Linked DNA regions of Homo sapiens: region 2 is linked to region 1. Evidence: fine-mapped expression QTL. A gene starts in region 1. The other region holds a variant in brackets. All regions are shown on one strand. Distances are between the middles of the regions.

What was found.
Region 2: its variant is fine-mapped to the expression of CASP8 in monocytes (Schmiedel 2018, PIP 0.92).

Annotation. Positions count from the first base shown.
Region 1 is chr2:201,254,837-201,265,113 of GRCh38, forward strand. It overlaps CASP8 (caspase 8), which reads left to right and starts at 5,700. Exons shown (of 9, transcript NM_001372051.1): 1 at 5,700-5,777. RefSeq lists enhancers at 2,745-2,794, 3,275-3,404, 3,364-3,508, 3,505-3,564, 3,585-4,004 and a cis regulatory region at 3,436.
Region 2 is chr2:201,309,328-201,319,604 of GRCh38, forward strand. All of the region lies in intron 9 of FLACC1 (flagellum associated containing coiled-coil domains 1), which reads right to left. Among named protein-coding and RNA genes, the nearest start is that of FLACC1, 43 kb to the right of the region's middle. The variant T/A (reference allele first, on the strand shown) is at 5,093.

The DNA of each region.
Region 1 (10,277 bases):
ACCTGTCCTCATTCTGTGCTGGGCAGGAGCCAGCTCTCCATGTCCCTGCAGCTCCAGCAACACCTCCGGATCTTTCAGCTTCCCTGGGACTAAGGACCATGCACATTATTAATTCTGATATAAACAGTCACACAGGCACATGTCTCAAGATGAGGGTGAGAAGTTGGTTACAGCAAATGAAGTAATAATGATCTTTGTGCTTCACAATAGGAATTCAACCAACCTGAGGTTTATAATTCACTTATTAACACTTTTTATTTTTGTTGAGACGGAGTGTCCCTCTGTCACTCACGCTGGAGTGCAATGGTGTCATCTCGGCTCACTGCAACCTCCGCCTCCTGGGCTCAAGTGAGTCTCGTGCCTTGAGTGGCTGAGACTACAGGCACATGCCACCATGCCCAACTAATTTTTTTGTATTTTTAGTAGAGATGGGGTTTTGCCATGTTGGCTAGGCTGGTCTCAAACTCCTGGCTTCAAGTGATCCGCCTACCTCAATCTCTTCAAGCGCTGGGATTACAGGGGTAAGCCACTGTGCCTGGCCATAATTCATTTATCAGTCATATATATATACACACACACTGGGAGAATCTAGGGTCAGTGCCTTACAAATGGCACAAGTTGAAGCCCTGAGACTCCCACTCCTACCCTGCTCCCCCCATTCTCAGTACTGCTCCTCAGATGCCTCCAGCAGATCATCCATTTCTGCTAGGCTGGGCCTGGGTACATGCAGGGAGATGTGTACAGGGGCTAAGAGCAGAAACTTTTGAGTGAGACACTCCTGAGTTCATGCACTGGCCCTGCCATTTGTCAGCTAATTGATGTTGCATTTAATTGCATCATCTGTATGTAAGCCTAATAATTTATAGCCATCTTAGAGATGTTGTGAGCTTAAATAACATAGTAGTGAATATTTATTTATTTGTTTATTTATTTATTTAGACAGGGCCTCGCTCTGTCACCTAGGCTGGAGTGCAGTGGTGTGATCATAGCTCACTGCAGCCTTGACCTCCCACACTCCAGTTATCCTCTCACCTCAGCCTCCTGAGTAGCTTGAGACAACAGATGCATGCCACCATAACTGACTAATTTTTTAAAATTTTCTGCAGAGACAGTGTCTCCCTATGTTGCCCAGGCTGGCCTCGATCTCTTGGGCTCAAGCGATCATCCTGCCTTGGTCTTCCAAAGTGCTGGGATTACTGGTGTGAGCCACTGCACCCACAGCCTATTTATTGAGAAATGTGGAAGGCCCAGGCACTATTCTAAGTGCTCCAGCTGTTTTATCTCCCACAGTTTTGCTCAGATAGGAGTTCCAAAGCTGGAGCTGGAAGACTCATATTTTTAGAAATGTTACAGTTAATTCTGAGGTGGGTCAGATTGAGATTCATGGCTATGCATTAATGTTTAGGTGGTGACTAACCACTCAGGGTTTTAGAGACAAACAGACCTTATTCTGTCACTCACTGACTGAGCGTGGCCAAGTCTTTCAGCCTCTCTAAGCCTCAGTGTCCTCATCCATAAAATGGGACCAATCGTAGCATCCACTTCTGAGAACTGTTCAGAAGTGGAAATGAGCTAGTTTAGGTGGCTGTGTCTGGCATACGCCAATGGTTTGATAAGTATTAGCTTGTGCCTTTATTAGGCCAACTCCTTTTTGTTAGGTGACTGAGAAACCAAGGACCTTCTGCCCTTTATGCACCAGTCACTATTAGTTTAAATTTGTTGCTCTTCCATCCACATGATTCATTCCAAATTTGAAGTGTTGGAGAAAGGGAGTTAGTATGTCATAGAAAAATCTCTGTTTTTGGCTCAGCAGGACTGAGTTTGACTCCATGTAACTGTCTGAGTCTTAGTTTCCTCATCCATAACATGGGAGAACAATACCCTGAATTAGAGAATTCTGCTGCCAGAATTAGAGATAGTTCATGTCAAGGTGCAACATATAGGTAATGTGTTATTGCTGGTGTTCTGGTTATAAAATGTACAAGATGTGAAAGCAAAAGGGCAGAAAACCCTTTTTAAAAATTCATGGCTGGGCGCGCTGCCTCATGCCTGTAATCCCAGCACTCTGCCAGGCCGAGGCGGGTGGATCACCTGAGGTCGTGAGTTTGAGACCAGCCTGACCAACATGGAGAAACCCTGTCTCTACTAAAAATACAAAATTAGCCGGGCATGGTGGCGCATGCCTGTAATCCCAGCTACCCAGGAGGCTGAGGCAGGAGAATCGCTTGAACCCGGGAGGCGGAGGTTGCTGTGAGCCGAGATGGCACCATTGCACTCCAGCCTGGGCAACAAGAGCGAAACTCCGTCCCCCGAACAAAAAATTCAAATGGGAAAGAGAGGCAGATGGCAGAGAACAGGGGAGGGGCTGGGCACCGTGGCTCATGCCTGTAATCCCAGCACTTTGGGAGGCCAAGGCGGGTGGATTTCTTGAGGTCAGGAGTTCAAGACCAGTCTGACCAACATGGTGAATCCCCATCTCTATTAAAAATACAAAAATTAGCCGGGGGTGGTGGTGGGTGCCTGTAGTCCCAGCTACTCGGGAGGCTGAGGCAGGAGAATCACCTGAACTCAGGAGGTGGAGGTTGCAGTGAGTCAAGATCGCACCACTGTACTGTTGCCTGGGCAACGCACCGAGACTCCGTCTCAAAAAAAAAAAAAAAATGAGAGAACAGGGGAGGGTCTAGGGCTCAGAGCTTTGGAGAACAGACCTCAGTAGCACCAACACTCCAGGATCAATGCTACAAAGACACGGGTTACAACTAAACTGGAGAACATGGCCAAGGATGGGAACTCAGCCTGAGCAGGGCTGAGCCGAGCAGGGCTAAGCCAAGTAGGGCTGAGCCAGAACACTTCCTCCTTTTTTCTGAACAATCTACCTACATTTCAGCTACAGGGCTGGCTTTACCCAGTCCGGCGGGAGGGAGGAGAGGGCTGGTCTGTGACTTCAGTGCTGAGGTTTGATCAAGGCAAAGGGAAACTTCCTATTCCCAGACCCTTTGCAAGAAAGAATGGCATATTACTTGCCACCGACAGGGGTTATTATTACTAAATGGAGTCAGTATAAATGCTTTCCAATAAAGCATGTCCAGCGCTCGGGCTTTAGTTTGCACGTCCATGAATTGTCTGCCACATCCCTCTTCTGAATGGTTGGAAATTGGGCATCTGTTCCTTTAAACAGGAAACATTTCTTGTTCGAGTGAGTCATCTCTGTTCTGCTTTAGGAGTAAAGTTTACCCTGCAGTTCCTTCTGTGGTGAAGTTTTCTCTTTCTCTCGGAGACCAGATTCTGCCTTTCTGCTGGAGGGAAGTGTTTTCACAGGTTCTCCTCCTTTTATCTTTTGTGTTTTTTTTCAAGCCCTGCTGAATTTGCTAGTCAACTCAACAGGAAGTGAGGCCATGGAGGGAGGCAGAAGAGCCAGGGTGGTTATTGAAAGTAAAAGAAACTTCTTCCTGGGAGCCTTTCCCACCCCCTTCCCTGCTGAGCACGTGGAGTTAGGCAGGTTAGGGGACTCGGAGACTGCGATGGTGCCAGGAAAGGGTGGAGCGGGTGAGTGCCTGTTGCCAAGGTGGCCTCTTCAACAGGAAACCACAATATTTTTGTTTCTTGACTTGCTCTAGAAACAGGGCTGTGGGGGTGGGGAAGCAACTTGGATCTGCCCTTCTGAGGACACCTCTGGGTGCTGCCTGGCCCAGGTCTCCTGTGTGGTTTCTCTCTGAGCCGTTGCCTCTGACTTTGCTACTTTTTCACTCTGAGCAGTCTCCAGTTCCTCTGCTACCTTTTTGTCCTCCAAGCTTCCCTGCCGCCTCGAATGCAGATACACGGTCTCCCTCCTGTGGACCCGTTTGGAGAGTCCAGAAGACTTTATCAATCCACTTTTTTTTCTTTTTCATTTGGCCCTGGGGCCGACGGTTAAGTACTTTATTCTGTCATTCTGTCGAATCACGATGCCCTGAGGTGCACAGCCCCTTCCCCCTCTTCCGTGTCTGAAGGGTTTCCTTTTATCTCTCCACCCCCACCCTTGCCCTCCTGCCCTCTCTCTTGTTCCCCAAAGACAGTTCTCTAATGTTTTGATGTGGATTCGTGAATTTATCTGTATCTTTGCAAAATGTATTTTTCTTTTGTATGTGTACACTGTTTTTTAACTATGCGATCTCAGGCAAGTAATTCCTCTGTGCCTCTGTTATCTCATCATTAAATGATTAATAATGCCTCCAGAGGTGACTGTGAGGCTTGAAGGAGATAATACGCATACATCACTTACTACACGAGTTAGCAATTATTATTGCATATTAATACTATTGGTATTTTATTTTGCTCATTCTGTTTCTATTTCTTTTTTATTTATTTATTTTTTGAGACAAAGTCTTGCTCTGTCACCCAGGCTGCAGTGCAGTGGTGCAATCACGGCTCACTGCAGCCTCAACATCCTGGGATCAAGCAATTTTCCCATCTCAGCCTTCAGATTAGCTGGGACCACAGGCGCGTGCTACCACACCTGGCTAATTAAAAAATTTTTCTTCATAGAGATGGTGTCTCATTTTGTTGCCCAGGCTGGTCTCAAACTCCTATGCTCAAGGGATCCTCCCACCTTGGCCTCTCAAAGTGCTAGGATTACATGCATGAGCCACGGTGGCCATCCAGGCATTGATATTATGAGGCCATCTTGACCTAGCCCTCTCTGGTGAAGAGTCCTTTTCAGATACTTCGTTCAGTCTTCTCAGCTATGAGTCCCTACCCTCTGAAAGCTTATATTCTATTTGGGGAAAGACAAAAGGCAGTTTCAAAGAAGAGAGGTGTTTGATTTTCTTTTCCTACTTTTAATATCAGAAAACATTTCATCTAACTCTCAGTATGAAGGCAATATTTTGTTTACTGGTATATCCCTAGAGCCCAACATGGTGAGGGCCCCAGGATTTGCTTCTTTGATAAGATGGTAAACCCAGCTTTCAGCTAACTTCATGGTTTCCTCAGCTACACTCATATACAAGGATCACCTTTGGTAAGATGGACTTACCATCTTACCAAAGAGTTTTTGCATTTTAGAGTTTTTTCTTTTTAGATTTTTTTCATTTTAGAATTTTTTTATTTCAGAGTTTTTTCTTTTTAGAGGTTTTTCATTTTAGAGTTTTTTCTTTTTAGAGTTTTTTTTTTTTTTTAATTTTAGAGTATTTTAGGCTGCTGAGGGTGGAATCTGGTGACCTTGGGGCCACAGAGATGCTCCTTGGCTAAACCAGGGGCTTTAGCTCTGAAAGTTCACAGCCACCCTGAGAACCAAGATGAGAGGGCTCTGCAGTGTCCAATCTCAAGACCTCTCTGAGGTGCTCCATCAAGATTCATTGAATGAAAAAATTAAAGTCTTAATGATGAACCCAGAAAAATCTTTAAATCCTAAATATGAAATGAAAGTGTTCTTAGTTACAATCCAGTCCAACGTCCTTGTTTTGGAATGTGGAAATGAGGCCCCAAAGGTAAAATGGCCCATCCAAAGTCACAGCCAGGGGCCAGTGCTCAGGTGGCCAGGTGCCCTGCGTGCGGTCTCCTGGACCACCAGGCCTTTTTCCTGCAGCTTTAGAAGCTTTAGAAGGCACTCTGCTCACTCAGGGGCAAGTGGTAAGCGCTCTTTCCCCTCTAGTGTTTGTGACTCAGGAGTTTCGAAACAGGAAGTAGAGCTGGCTGGCTGTGCCCTTCCGTCCTTCATTAGACGTTTGCTCTTGTCTTAGATGCTCAGATGGTAGTGGATAGGCCTGTGACGAAGGTGCTACCATCGTGAGAGTAAGGTAAGGATTTGCCTCTTTGTTAAGGTCAGAGGGGCCTTTTGGGAGGAAGGCCTTTGATTCTGGAGTTTTCTAGGCTGCTGAGAGTGAGATCGGGTGGCCCTGGGGCCATGGAGGTGATCCTCGTATGTGAGTGTGGATGGGGAAACCATGAAGTTAGTGTAAGAGGTAGCAGTCCCTCTGAGAGCCTTGCCGAGGGCCGTGCAGTTTCCAGATCTGAAGGCCATTCTAGCTTAGACTGATGAAGTCCTAGGAGCTTCTGAAATGCTGCAAGTTTAACTACTTGTATAAAGGCCTCATCCTGATCCCAGTCAAACTTGTGAAATAATAGAAGCCAAAATTTAAATCTCTACTGACTTTGCTGCTACAGCTATCCTCCCACCAACACACATACCCACCAACATACACACTTGCCAACATAAACGCACACACACATACACACAAACACACCCATGTGGTCCTACTAATTCAATTATTTATTTTTTAAAGAAATTAAAAAAGACTGGGCGTGGTGGCTCTCGCCTGTCATCCCAGCACTTTGGGAGGTCGAGGCGGTGGTTCACCTGAGGTCGGGAGTTTGAGACCAGCTTGACCAACATGAAGAAACCCCGTCTCTACTAAAAATACAAAATTAGCCGGGCATGATGGCGCATGCCTGTAATCCCAGCTACTCGGGAGGCTGAGGCAGGAGAATCGCTTGAACCTGGGAGGTGGAAGTTGTGGTGAGCCGAGATCGTGCCACTGCACTCCAGCCTGGGCAACAAGAGCGAAACTCCGTCTCAAAAAAAAAAAAAAAAAAAAATTAAAAAGATACAGAACAGTTCAAAAAACAATATAATGGGAAGACTAGATAGACACAATCAGAGACCTGCACTTGTGGGGTTAAGAATTTACAGGTGAAGTTGCAAGTTTCATTCTGTTTGAAAATGATGGGATTATATGTTTTGCTGAGGTTTGGACACCTTTGCTGGGTTGTTTGAATGCCGTGGCTGCAGCGCCCTGTTATGGACATCATGTGCGTGCAGAATGGATGTCTGTCAGGTTCCGGGGCAGCCCGCAGTCTGAGGCAGCCAGCCTGGATTGGAGGGAGTGGCAATACTACCTGCCGGTTAGGGGTTTGGGCCTGAGAGCGAGTGGCTTTCAGGTTCTCTCAAGCTTCGGATGAGATGCAGGTTTCTGCTTCCGATGGCAAATGCATGTTTTGCTTTTTAGTTATCACTGCAAGAGCTAGGATGCTGCTAGAATATTACTGGAATGATTGTGATGAGATGGAATGTATTTACAGTTTAATTGTGACATGTAATACAGTGGTAGAATGGGACTCTGGAATGAGATGCTGGGGCCTAGATTCTAGCACTTCCTTTGTGAGGCTCTAACCCCCTCTCCTATAGTGGATTTGTTAAGAACTTCTGTTTTTGTGGCTTTGTTATTATAAAATTTTTTGAAATGTTGTTCTCTAAAAAAGTTATGATTTTATGTTTTTCTTCATGAGATTCTTTCACTGCCTTCCAGCTGCAAGTAGAATGACGTCTAAATCTTTGTGATCTGTCACTGAAGCCCTTGAGTGAGACACTTAAATCTGGCTGTGGCTCTCTCTCTTACTAGCTTATTTCCAAGCCGTGATTTTTCACAACAGAAAAATGGGGACAGTAATAGTAGTTTCTTCAGAGGCTTTTAGTGAAATGAGGTTAAAAAATATTTTTATGTTTATATGGATATATAGATTACAAACATTTATATATCATTTATTTATATGATTATTATAAACACATATTTATATTTAAATACTTTGGGGCATAAATATATAAAATAATAAATATACTTATGTAATACAAATAGACTTATATACATTTACTATTTAGCAGAGATTATATAAAATATATGTATTACATGGCAACATATTCAAATTTACATATGTTATATATACATGTGGAAAAAAAATTGGGAAAAGGCCACAAAATGTGACCAAAGAATTACTTCCAAATGGCAAGTTTTTAAGTAATTTTTATTTTCTTTTTATACTTCTCTGTACTTTCTCTATGAAACAAGTGTTACTTTTACTGTTTTTAGGAACCAAAAATACAAGTACATTGTTTAAAAAATACTAGCTTAACAAAGTTTCTAGCCCATAAGCTAGTGCAGAAAATCTAGGTCCCATAAAACAAGAACTGCCACACGATGTCTCTCCCCTTACAGTGCTGGATGGCCCGTTGTTAATGGTGTCATAAATCCTTTGCAAGTGACTGTTTTCTAGGTACTATGACTAGAGGGATGTGTAACTTAAGCAAAAAACAAAAAACAGAAAAGGCTGACTATCATCTGACAGTGTATCCTGGAACACCTAGGCCAGAGAAGAAGCCACGTTAGCATTTTCCCTTCTAAATGTCAGTTATGATTTGATGGGGAAACCACTTAAAAAGCATTGTCACGTTGTTGAAAAGGTAATGAAATGAGTGAGATGAGATGGCTATGGAGGACGGAGCTATGCGCCAATCTTATTATATCCAAATTCATGTCATCTCAGCCTTGGATTGTATTGATTTTTATTATATACTGTCAGAAAATGCTATTGAATGTGTAACAAGAGCCTCAAAAAGGTTTATTCATTTTGACACCATAATACTACTTTTAGGAAATTATTCTAAGAAAATAATTAGAGGTATTCTTAAAGATTTGCGTTTTAAAGTCATCCTAAATGTAATCAGGAACTGGCTATGTAAATTATAGCCCATCTCTAAGATTAAGTGCCTTACAGATATTAAAACCCATGCTGTAGAAGAAAAACTAAAGACAGGAAAGTACTTACAATACAAGATGTACTTACCAGTGGAAAAATCCACTTATACTACAGAAATATGATGTGTTCAAATATAAGGAAAAATGTGTATGCATAAAATATTTGGTAGGAAAGAGTAAAATATTACTGGGCATTTATATTTGGATGGTGGAATTATACATAATTTTAATTTTCCTTTTTATCTTTTCTGTATTGTCTAAAATGAATACACTAAGCATTGTTATCCTCAGAAAAAAATAATTGAGGGATGGGGGAAAGGAAGTCCTGCTTTCATTTGATTCTTTGGTTGGTTTTATTCTGTAAGATGAGACTTTAACAGAGGTTAGAATGCATTAAAAATTGTAAAGACAGTTGACCTAATGGCACTAAACAGGGTTAGATCTAGTTTAGATCTTTTCCAGCATGTGAATAAGAATGGATCTTTAAATAAAGATTTTAACTAGGTATATGTTTTAGAATAAGTCATACATGTACATGGTAAAAATTCAAACAGTACAAACTGTGCAGCAAGGTATGGGAAATAAAGCAGCTCTCACTGTCACCTCCACCCATCAGCCTTCTCACACTGCACGCCCACATCTGTGTGTAATTCTGCTTTTCTTTAACATTACTGAAGGAACTTCCTGTGCATTTTTTGTCAGAGCTCTTCTGTGAATACACAAAATATGTACTGATCAATACATTATGTAGATCACGCAGGCTCAACCACATTGATCTTCCTATTCTTTCTAGTAGCCAAATAGAGTTCCCTGGAATATGATTAATAGCTTGCCTAAATCTTCTAATGCTGATAAACAGTTGTTTCTGCTCTTTCGTTATTTCAAGGAATGCTACCATGAATAGCCTTATATATGGTTTTGAGTATACTTGTTTAAGTGAATGTAGGAAAAACTCTTGGAAGTTAAATTGTGGGCCAGTTTATGTGAATTTTATATTTTGACAGAGATGGCTAAATTACCCACCTGTTTTTTTGTTTTGTTTTGGTTTTGGTTTTGCTTTTTTTTTTTAAGAGTTGGGGTCTTGCTACCTGGGGTCTTGCCACCTGGGGTCTTGCCCAGGGTAGACCTGAACTCCTGGGCCACGTTGGTTTATTTTACTGCATTCCCAGGGCCTAGAGCAACGATTGACACGTGCTAGCAGTATCTATTGGAAATTCTGGCCAACTTGCAATAGACCTGATTATTTCTACACTGAACATGTCTAAGATAGCTATTACTATTCATTCAGGAAAGCCCAGACAATTATCATGCCAGCAGCCTGAGACAGTAGCCAGTAATAGCCTGGTGTGGTAGTTTGCTCCTGTAGTCTCAGCTACTCAGCAGGCTGAGGTGGGAGGATGGCTCTAGCCTGGGAGGTGGAGGTTGCAATGAGCCAAGATTGCGCCCTGCACTCCAGCCTGGGTGACAGAGTGAGACCCTGTCTCAAAAATAAAAATAAGAATAAAAAATAAACCAGCAAAAGTTTCTGCCCTCACAGAGCTTCCATTCTAGTGAGAGGGTAGTTTGTCATCAGGAGGGTGACGCCGGTAGGGCTGGGGGCCAGCTCCCTGCAGGGAACAAACATGATCGCAGTGGGGTGGGAGTAGGGGATGAGTCCCCAGAGCCTCTGTGGTTTCCATTTCCACACAAAAAAACCACTGCTGCTGTAATCAGGAGGGGGAAAAGATTTTTAAAAATTTTCTTTCAGGGAATGGAAGGAAAGGATAT
Region 2 (10,277 bases), 54 kb after region 1:
AGGGAGGACTCCTCTTGGCATTGCACAGTGGCCAGGGCCCATCACCATGTTCTGTGCATCTTCCCTTACCTGGGGCCCTCACTGAGTGGGTCCTCCATGGGTGACTGGTGAGAAGTAAATTCCAGCCCAGCCCAACAGAGAGCTTATGGAACCCAAAGGTCAAGGGCAAACTATGCACAGTGTTTGCCCCACTAGAACTGAGCTTCCTTTGAAGAAAGGTAGAGTTCTCCATGTTGAAGGATCATATGTTAGCTCCCCCTAAATCACAAATCCCTCTTCAATAGCACAAGAAGAAAGGAGGCCGGGCGCAGTGGCTCACACCTGTAATCCCAGCACTTTGGGAGGTGGAGGCAGGCAGATCACAAGGTCAAGAGGTCAAGACCATCCTGGCCAACATGGTGAAACCCCATCTCTACTAAAAATACAAAAATTAGCTGGGCGTGGTGGCACACACCTGTAGTCCCAGCTACTTGGGAGGCTGAGGCAGGAGACTCGCTTGAACCTAGAAGGCAGAGGTTGCAGTGAGCCGAGATCACGCCACTGCACTCCAGCCTGGTGACAGAGTGAGACTCTGTCTCAAAAAAAAAAAAAAAAAAAAAAGAAGAAGAAAGGAAATACCTAGTAGTTAATTTGAACACTTAGAAAATAAGGGGATGTTTTTCAGAGAATGTCCACTTTTTCTCAGCAAATCTAACTTTCTTTTGTGGTTGAGGTTAAATAAGCCTAATCTAATACCAATACTGTTGCTTGGCTCAGATTTCATGAACATGGAATCCTAGGAGGGGGAAGGCCCTGGACCTGGATGACACTAGTAGGGTCCAAGGACGCTGACTGCCTTATTTTTCAGGTTAGCAGAAGGATTCACACCCGACCTATTCTATTTACCACTCACACGTCTTAGGCTCTGTTCTATGATGTTTTCCCTGAATATACCAAGGAGTATCTTAAAAAAATGAGTTTTAGACACAGGCTCAAAACTGAAATTGTAAGTGGTAAATAGAACTTTAGAGGTGGTACTGGTGTTTAACTTTTGATAGAGCGACCAAGTGTCCTTGTCTGCCTGACACTTAGGGGTTTCCTGGGACTCTGGACTCTCAGTGCTAAAACCTGGAAAGTCTCAGGCCAACTAGAACTAGTTGGTCACTATACTTCACAATTAAACAGGATGAAGGCTTGAGGCTTCAGTCCTTTCCCGCCCCACTAGCCATCTCTTAACTCTCTTCATCTACCTAGTAAGAATCATGCCCTAACTTTGTTTTCCTGGGCCTTCATCAAATGAGCTGATTAAATGGATGGGTTTTATTCTGAGATGACGGGAGCACTCCATGCTTTGCTTGTGGCAGTGCAGAGTGATACATTCTTTTTGGATGGCAATTTGGCCATATATATTAAAGGCCTTAAAAATGTTCATTCCAAAACAAGAACTAACCCCAAAGCTAGGAGAAGAAAAGAAATAACTAAAATCAGAACAGAACTGAATGGAATCAAAATTCAAAAACCCATACAAAGAATCAATGAAACAAAAAGTTGGATCTTTGAAAGGAAATGCAAGACCGATAGAGTGCTAGCTACATTAGCAAAGAAAAAAACGACGATCCAAATAAGCACATTTAGAAAGGACAAAGGTGACATTACAACTAATCCCACAGAAATATAAAAGAACCTCAGAGATCATTATGAACATCTGTATGCATACAAACAAGAAAATCTAGAGGAAATGGATAAATTCCTGGAAACACAACCTCCAAAGATTGAATCAAGAAGCAATTGAAACCCCAAATAGACAATATTGAGTTTTGAAATTGATTCAGTAATAAAATAATCTAACACTAAAAAAAAAAAAAAATCCTGGGACCAGAAAGATTCACAGCCAAATTCTACCAAAAGTACAGAGAAGAACTGGTACCAATTCTACTGAAACTATTCCAAAAAAATGAGGAGGAGGGACTCCTCCCTAACTTATTCTATGAAGCTGGCATTATCCTTATACCAAAACCTGGCAAAGACAAAAAAGAAACTACAGGCCAATATCCCTATGAACATAGACTGAAAAAAATGCTCAACAAAATACTTGCAAATTGAATCCAGCTACACATGAAAAAGTTAATTCATGGCCAGGCACGGTGGCTCATACCTGTTATCCCAGCACTATGGGAGGTTGAGTCAGGAGAATTGCTTGAGCCCAGGAGTTTAAGCAACATGATATGAGACCCCACATCTACAGAAAAAATAAAAAATTAGCTAGGTGTAGTGGTCCCAGCTATTTAGGAGGCTGAGGTGTGAGGATCACTCCAGCCCAGGAGGTTGAGGCTTCAATGAGCTGTGATTGTGCTGCTGCACTCCAGCCCAGGTGACAGAATGAGACACTGACTCAAAAAAAAAAAAAAAAAAGTTAATTCACCATGATCAAGTAGGCTTCATTCTCACAATGCAAGGTTGGTTCAACATACGTGAATCCATAAATGTGATTCACCACATAAACAGAATTAGAAAGAAAACCCATATGATCATCTCAATAGACATGGAAAAAGCCTTTGATAAAATCCAACATCCCTTCATGATAAAAACTCTCAGCAAATTAGGTTATCAAAGGAACTTACTTCAAAATAATAAGAGCCATCTATGACAAACCCACAGCCAAAATCCTACTGAATGGGCAAAAGCTGGAAGCATTACCCTTGAGAACTAGCACAAGACAAGGATGCCCACTCTCACCTCTCTTATTCAACATAGCACTGGAAGTACTAGCCAGAGCCATTAGGCAAGAGAAAGAAATAAAAGGCATCCAAATAGGAAAAGAAGAAGTCAAATTTTTCTGTTCACTGATAACATAATTGCATACCTAGAAAACTTTAAAGAATCTGCCAAAAGGCTCCTGGAACTGATAAACAAGTTCAGTAAAGTTTCAGGATACAAAATCAATGTACAAAAAATAAGTAGCATTTCTATACACCAATAATGTCCAAGGTGAGAGCCAAATCAATAACGTAATCCCATTCACTATAGACACAAAAAGAATAAAATCCCTAAAAATATAGCTAACCAAGGAGGTAAAAGGAGAACTATAAATTGCTGCTGAAAGAAATCAGAGACAACACAAACAAATGGAAAAACATTCCATGCTCATGGATTAGAAGAGTCAATATCATTAAGATGGCCACACTACTTAAAGCAATTAAGAGATTAAATGCTATTCCTGTCAAACTACCAACATCATTTTTCACAGAATTAGAAAAAAATTATTGTAAAATTCATATGGAACCAAAAAAGAGTCTAAATAGCCAAAGCAATCCTAAGCAAAAAGAACAAAGCTGGAGGCATCTCATTACCTGACTTCAAAATATACTACTAATATAAGGCTACAGAGATGGTGGACGGGAAGCAGGACTAGACTGCAGCTCCCACTCGGATGGACAGAGCAGCATGTGGAGTCTTGCATCGTGAACTTTTGCTCCAGAACTACTGCAGGAATAATTCAGGAAAGCCAAGAGAATCCACAGACCCTCTGAAGGAAGTGGATTGCTCCCGTAGGACCCGGGAGATGCCCCAAATACTGTGAGTGCCCAAACTGTGGAAGTAGGAAAGGGGGATTGTCCACCTTCAAACACACAACCTCACTGGGGAACCTGAAGGTCTAGATCATGGGAGAAGATTCTGACCTTACCTGGAGCTGAGTCAATTTAGAGAACCAAGTGAAATATAGGGGTAAAGGAAGTAGCAGGAAAAGCCCTGTGGGCTCTCTGGGTTCCCAGGGATGCCATTTCTGACTTGTCTCACAGGGCTACCTGGGGAGGACTGCCAGAGGAACTCAGAAAACATCACAGGGAGAAGGAAAACTCCAGCTGAATTTTCTAACAATTCCAACTGAATAGGAAATCTCCTGGCCAGAACTTGGGGGAAGGCATGAATCTGGTGTGCAGACTCCACAGGCAGGGAAGCACAAAAGCACTACTTGCTTTTGCAGCTGGGAGGCTGGTAGCCTGGGGCAAGTTCTCAGTCCTGTTTGCCCACTGCCTGGAAACAGACTTGGTACTACTGGGTTGGGGGCATGGTGGGAGTGAGATTGATCTTCTGGGTTTCGTGGGAGCTGGGTGAGGTCTGTGACTGCCAGTTTACCCCTACTTCCCTGACAACCTGCACGACACAGCAGAAGTAGCCATAATCCTCCTGGGAACATAATTCCATTTACCTGGGAACCACACCTCCATCCCCACAGCAGCTGCAGCAAGACTCGCCCAAGAAGAGTCTGAGCTCAGACACGCCTAGCCCTGCCCCAACCTGATGGTCCTTTCCTACTCACCCTGGTAGCTGAAGACAAAGGGCATATACTCTTGGGAGTTCTAGGGCCCCACCCACCGCCTGATCCTCCCCATACTACCACAGCTGATGCTGTCTTGAAAGCATCATCTCCTGGCAGGAGGCCAACCAGCACAAAAATAGTGCATTAAATGACCAAAACTAAGGACCCTCACAGAGTCCATCTCACTCCCCTGCTACCTCTACCAGAGCAGGTACTGGTATCCACAGCTGAGAGACCCACAGATGGTTCACATCACAGGACTCTGTGCAGACAACCCCCAATACCAGCCTGGAACCTGGTAGGACTGCTGGATGTCTAGATCCTAAAAAGAGATAACAATCACTACAGCTTGGGCTCTCAGGAAGGCACATCCCTAGGAAAAGGGGGAGAGTACTACATCAAGAGAACACGCCATAGGACAAAAGAATCTGAACAACAGCCTTGAGCCCTAGATCTTCCCTCTGACAGAACCTACCCAAATGAGAAGGAACAAGAAAACCAACTCTGGTAATATGAAAAAACAAGGTTCTTTAACATCCCCCACAAAATCACACTAGCTTACCAGATGTGGATCTAAACCAAGAAGAAACCCCTGATCTACCTGACAAAGAACTCATCAAGGAAGCAACAGAGAAAGGCAAAGCCCAATTTAAGGAAATTTAAAAAAAAATGATACAAGAAATGAGGGGAGAAATCTTCAATGAAATAACATAAATAAAAAACAAAACTTCAGGAAACAATGGACACACTTATAGAAATGCAAAATGCTCTGGTACGTCTCAGCAATAGAAT[T/A]GAGCAAGCACAAGAAAGAACTCAGAGCCTGAAGACAAGGTTTTTGAATTAACCCAATCCAACAAAGACAAAGAAAAAAGAATAAGAAAATATGAACAAAGCCTCCAAGGAGTCTGGGATGTTAAACAACCAAATGTAAAAATAATTGGTGTTCCTGAGGAAGAAGAGAAATCTAAAAGTTTGGAAACACATTTGTGCAATAATTGAGGGAAACTTCCCCACCCTTGCTAGAGACCTAGATATCCAAATACAAGAAGCTCAAAGAACACTTGAGAAATTTATCACAAAAAGATCATAGCCTAGGCACATTGTCATCAGGTTATCTAAAGTTAAGATGAAGGAAAGAATCTTAAGAGCTGTGAGGCAAAAGCACCAGGTAACCTGTAAAGGAAAACCTATCAGACTAACAGCAGATTTCTCAGCAGAAACCTTACAAGCAAGAAAGGATTAGGGCCCTATCTTCAGCCTCCTTAAACAAAACAATTATCAGCCAAGAATTTTGTACCAAGCAAAACCAAGCTTCATAAATGAAGGAAAGATACAGTCTTTTTCAGGCAAACAAATGCTAAAAGAACTTGCCACTACCAAGGCAGCACTACAAAAACTGCTAAAAGGAGCTCTAAATCTTGAAACAAATCCTGGAAACACATCAAAACAGAACCTCTTTAAAGCATAAATCTCACAGGACCTATAATACAAAAAAAAGCAAAAACAAAAACAAAAACAAAAAAACCCAAGGCATACAGGAAACAAATAGCACAATGAATGGAATGGTACCTCACATCTCAATACTAACATTGAATATAAATGGCCTAAATGCTCTACTTAAAAGATACAGAATTGCTGAATGGGTAAGAATTCACCAATCAACTATCTGCTGCCTTCAGTTGACTCACCTAACACATAAGAACTCATAAACTTAAGGAAAGGGGTGGAAAAAGACATTCCATGCAAATGGACACCAAAAGCTAGCAGGAGTAGCTATTCTTACATCAGACAAGACAAACTTTAAAGCAACAGCAGTTAAAAAAGACAAAGAGGGACATTATATAATGGTAAAAGGCCTTCTCCAACAGGAAAATATCACAATCCTAAATATATATGCACCTAACACTGGAGCTCCCAAATTTATAAAACAATTACTCCTAGACCTAAAAAATGAGATAGACAGCAACACAATGATAGTGGCGGACTTCATTACTCCACTGACAGCACTAGACAGGTCAAGAAGACAGAAAGTTAACAAAGAAACAATAGATTTAAAATATACCCTGGAACAAATGGACTTAAGAGATATTTACAGAACATTCTATCCAACAACCCCAGAATATACATTTATTCAACAGCATATGGAACTTTCTCCCAGATAGACCATATGATAGGCCACAAAACAAGCCTCAATAAATTTAAAATTGAAATTATATCAAGCATTCTCTCAGACCACAGTGGAATAAAACTGGAAATCAACTCCAAAAGGAATGTTCAAAACCATGCAAATACATGGAAATTAAATAACCTGTTCCTGAATGATTATTGAGTCAACAATGAAATCAAGATGGAAATTTAAAAAAATTCTTCAAACTGAATGACAACAGTGACATAAAACCTATCAAAACCTCTGGGATACAGCAAAGGCAGTGCAAAGAGGAAAGCTAAAAGCCCTAAACACTTATATAAAAAAGTCTGAAAGAGCAAAAACAGACAATATAAGGTCACACCTCAAGGAACTAGAGAAACAAGAACAAACCAAACACAAACCCAGCAGAAGAAAGGAAATAACCAAGATCAGAGCAGAACTGAATGAAATCAAACAAACAAACAAACAAAAAATACAAAAGATAAATGAAACAAAAAGCTGGTTCTTTGAAAAGATAAATAAAATTGATAGATCATTAGCAAGATTAACCAAGAAGAGAGAAAATCCAAATAAGCTTAATTAGAAATGAAAAGGGAGATATTACAACTGACACCACAGAAATACAAGAGATCATTCAAGGCTACTGTGAACACCTTTACGTGCATAAACTAGAAAACCTAGAGGAGACAGATAAATTCCTGGAAAGATACAACCCTCCTAGCTTAAATCAGGAAGAATTAGATACCCCGAACAGACCAATAACAAGCAGTGAGATTGGAATGATAATTAAAAAATTACCTACACAAAAAAGTCCAGGACTAGATGGATTCACAGCAGAACTCTACCAGACATTCAAAGAAGGATTGGTACCAATCCTATTAACACTATTCCACAAGATAAAGAGGGAATCCTCCCTAAATCATTGTATGAAGCCAGTATCACCCTAATACTAAAAACAGGAAAAGACATAACCAAAAAAGAAAACTACAGACCAATATCCTTGATGAACATAGATGCAAAAATCCTTAACAAAATACTGGCTAACTGAATCCAACAACATATCAAAAAGATAATCCACCATAATCAAGTGGGTTTCATACCAGGGATATAGGCTTAACATACTCAAGTCAATAAATGTGATACACAACATAAAAAGAATTAAAAATAAAAATCACATGATCATTTCAATAGATGCGGAAAAAGCATTTGACAAAATCCAGCATGCTTTATGATTAAAACTCTCAGCAAAACTAGCATACAAGGGCCATACCTCAATGTAATAAAAGCCATCTATGACAAACCCACAGCCAAAATCATACTGAATGGGGAAAAGTTGGAAGCATTCCCACTGAGGACTGGAACATGACAAGGATGCCCACTCTCACCACTCCTCTTCAACATAGTACTGGAAGTCCTAGCCAGAGCAATCAGACAAGAGAGAGAAATAAAGGGCACCCAAATCAGTAAAGAGGAAGTCAAACTATTGCTGTTTGCTGATGATATAATTGTATACCTACAAAACCCTAAAGATTCCTCCAAAAAGCTCCTAGAACTGATAAAAGAATTCAGTAAAGTTTCCAGATACAAAATTAATGTGCACAAATCAGTAGCTCTGCTATACACTGACAGCGACTAAGGTGAAAATCAAATCAAGAACTCAACCCCTTTTACAATAGCTGCAAAAGAAAAATAAAATGTTTGGACTATACCTAACCAAGGAGTTGTAAGACCTGTACAAGGAAAACTATAAAACACTGCTAAAGAAATCATAGATGACACAAACAAATGGAAACACATCCCATGCTCACTGATGGGTAGAATCAATATTGTGAAAAAGATCATACTGCCAAAAGCAATCTACAAATTTAATGCAATTCCCATCAAAATACCACCATCGTTTTTCACAGAACTAGAAAAAAAACTCCTTAAATCCATATGGAACCAAAAAAGAACCCACATAGCCAAAGCAAGACTAAGCAAAACAAAACAAAGCAAAACAAGCAAACAAAAAATCAAAAAGCAAAAAACCTAACAAATCTGGAGGCATCACATTACCTGATTTCAAACTATATTATATGGCCATAGTCACCAAAACACCATGGTACTGGTATAAATATAGGCACATAGACCAATGGAACAGAACAGTGAACTCAGAAATAAACCCAAATACTTACAGCCAACTGATCTTTGACTAAGCAAACACAAATATAAAGTGGGGAAAGCACATCTTATTCAACAAATGGTGCTGGGATAATTGGCTAGCCACATGTAGGAGAATGAAACTGGATCCTCATCTCTCATCTTACACAAAAATAAACTCAAGATGGATCAAGGACTTAAATCTAAGACCTGAAAATATAAAAATTCTAGAAGATAACATCAGAAAAACCCTTCTAGACATTGGCTTAGGCAAGGATTTCATTACCAAGAACACAAAAGCAAATGTAATAAAAACAAAGATAAATGGCTGGGACTTAATTAAACTAAAGAGCTTTTGCATGGCAAAAAGAACAGTCATCAGAGCAAACAGACAACCCACAGAGTGGGAGAAAATCTTCACAATCTATACATCTGACAAAGGACTAATATCCAGAATCTACAACAAACTAAAACAAATTAGCAAGAAAAAACAAATAACCCATCAAAAAGTGGGCTAAGGACATGAATAGACAATTCTCAAAAGAAGATATACAAATGGCCAACAAACATATGAAAAAGTGCTCAACATCACTAATGATCAGGGAAATGCAAATCAAAACCACAATGAGATACCACCTTACTCCTACAAGAATGGCCATAATCAAAAAATAAAAAAAAAATACATGTTGGCATGGATGTGGTGAACAGAGAACACTTCTACACTGCTGGTGGGAATGTAAACTAGTACAACTGCTATGGAAAACAGCATAGAGATTCTTTAAAGAACTAAAAGTAGAACTACCATTTGATTCAGAAATTCCATATATATATGATAGAATACTACTCAGTCATAAAAAGTAATGAATTAATGGCATCAACACAACTTGGATGAGATTGGAGACTTATTCTAAGTGAAGTAACTCAGGAATGGAAAACCAAACATCGTATGTTCTCACTCATAAGTGGAAGCTAAGCTATGAGGATGCAAAGGCATAAGAATAACACAATGGATTTTGGGGACTCAGGGGGAAAGAGTGGGAAGGGGGTGAGGGATAAAAGACTACAAATTGAGTGCAGTGTATACTGCTCGGGTGATGGGCACACCAAAATCTCACAAATCACCACTAAAGTACTTACTCATGTAACCAAACACCTCCTGTTTCCTAATAACCCATAGAAATAAAAAAATTTAAAAAAATATAAGGCTACAGTAACCAAAACAGCTTGGTACTGATACAAAAACAGACACATAGATCAATGGAACAGAATAGCAAACTCAGAAATAAAGCTGCACACCTACATCCATCTGATCTTCAACAAAGTAGACAAAAACAAGTGGTGGGGAAGGAGTTCCCTATTCAATAAATGATGCTGGGATAGCTGGCTAGCCATATGCAGAAAAATAAAACTGGGCCCCTACCTTTCACCATATACAAAAATCAACCCAAGATGCCTTAAAGATTTAAACATAAGAACTCAAACTCTAAGAATCCTAGAAGAAAACCTAGGAAACACCATTCTGAACACTGGCCTTGGGAAAGAATTTATGACTAAGTCCTCAAAAGCAACTGCAACAAAAACAAAAATTGACAAGTGGGACCTAATTAAACTAAAGAGCTTCTGCACAGCAAAAAAACCCGTCAACAAAGTAAACAGGCAACCTACAAAAAAAGAGAAAATATTCACAAA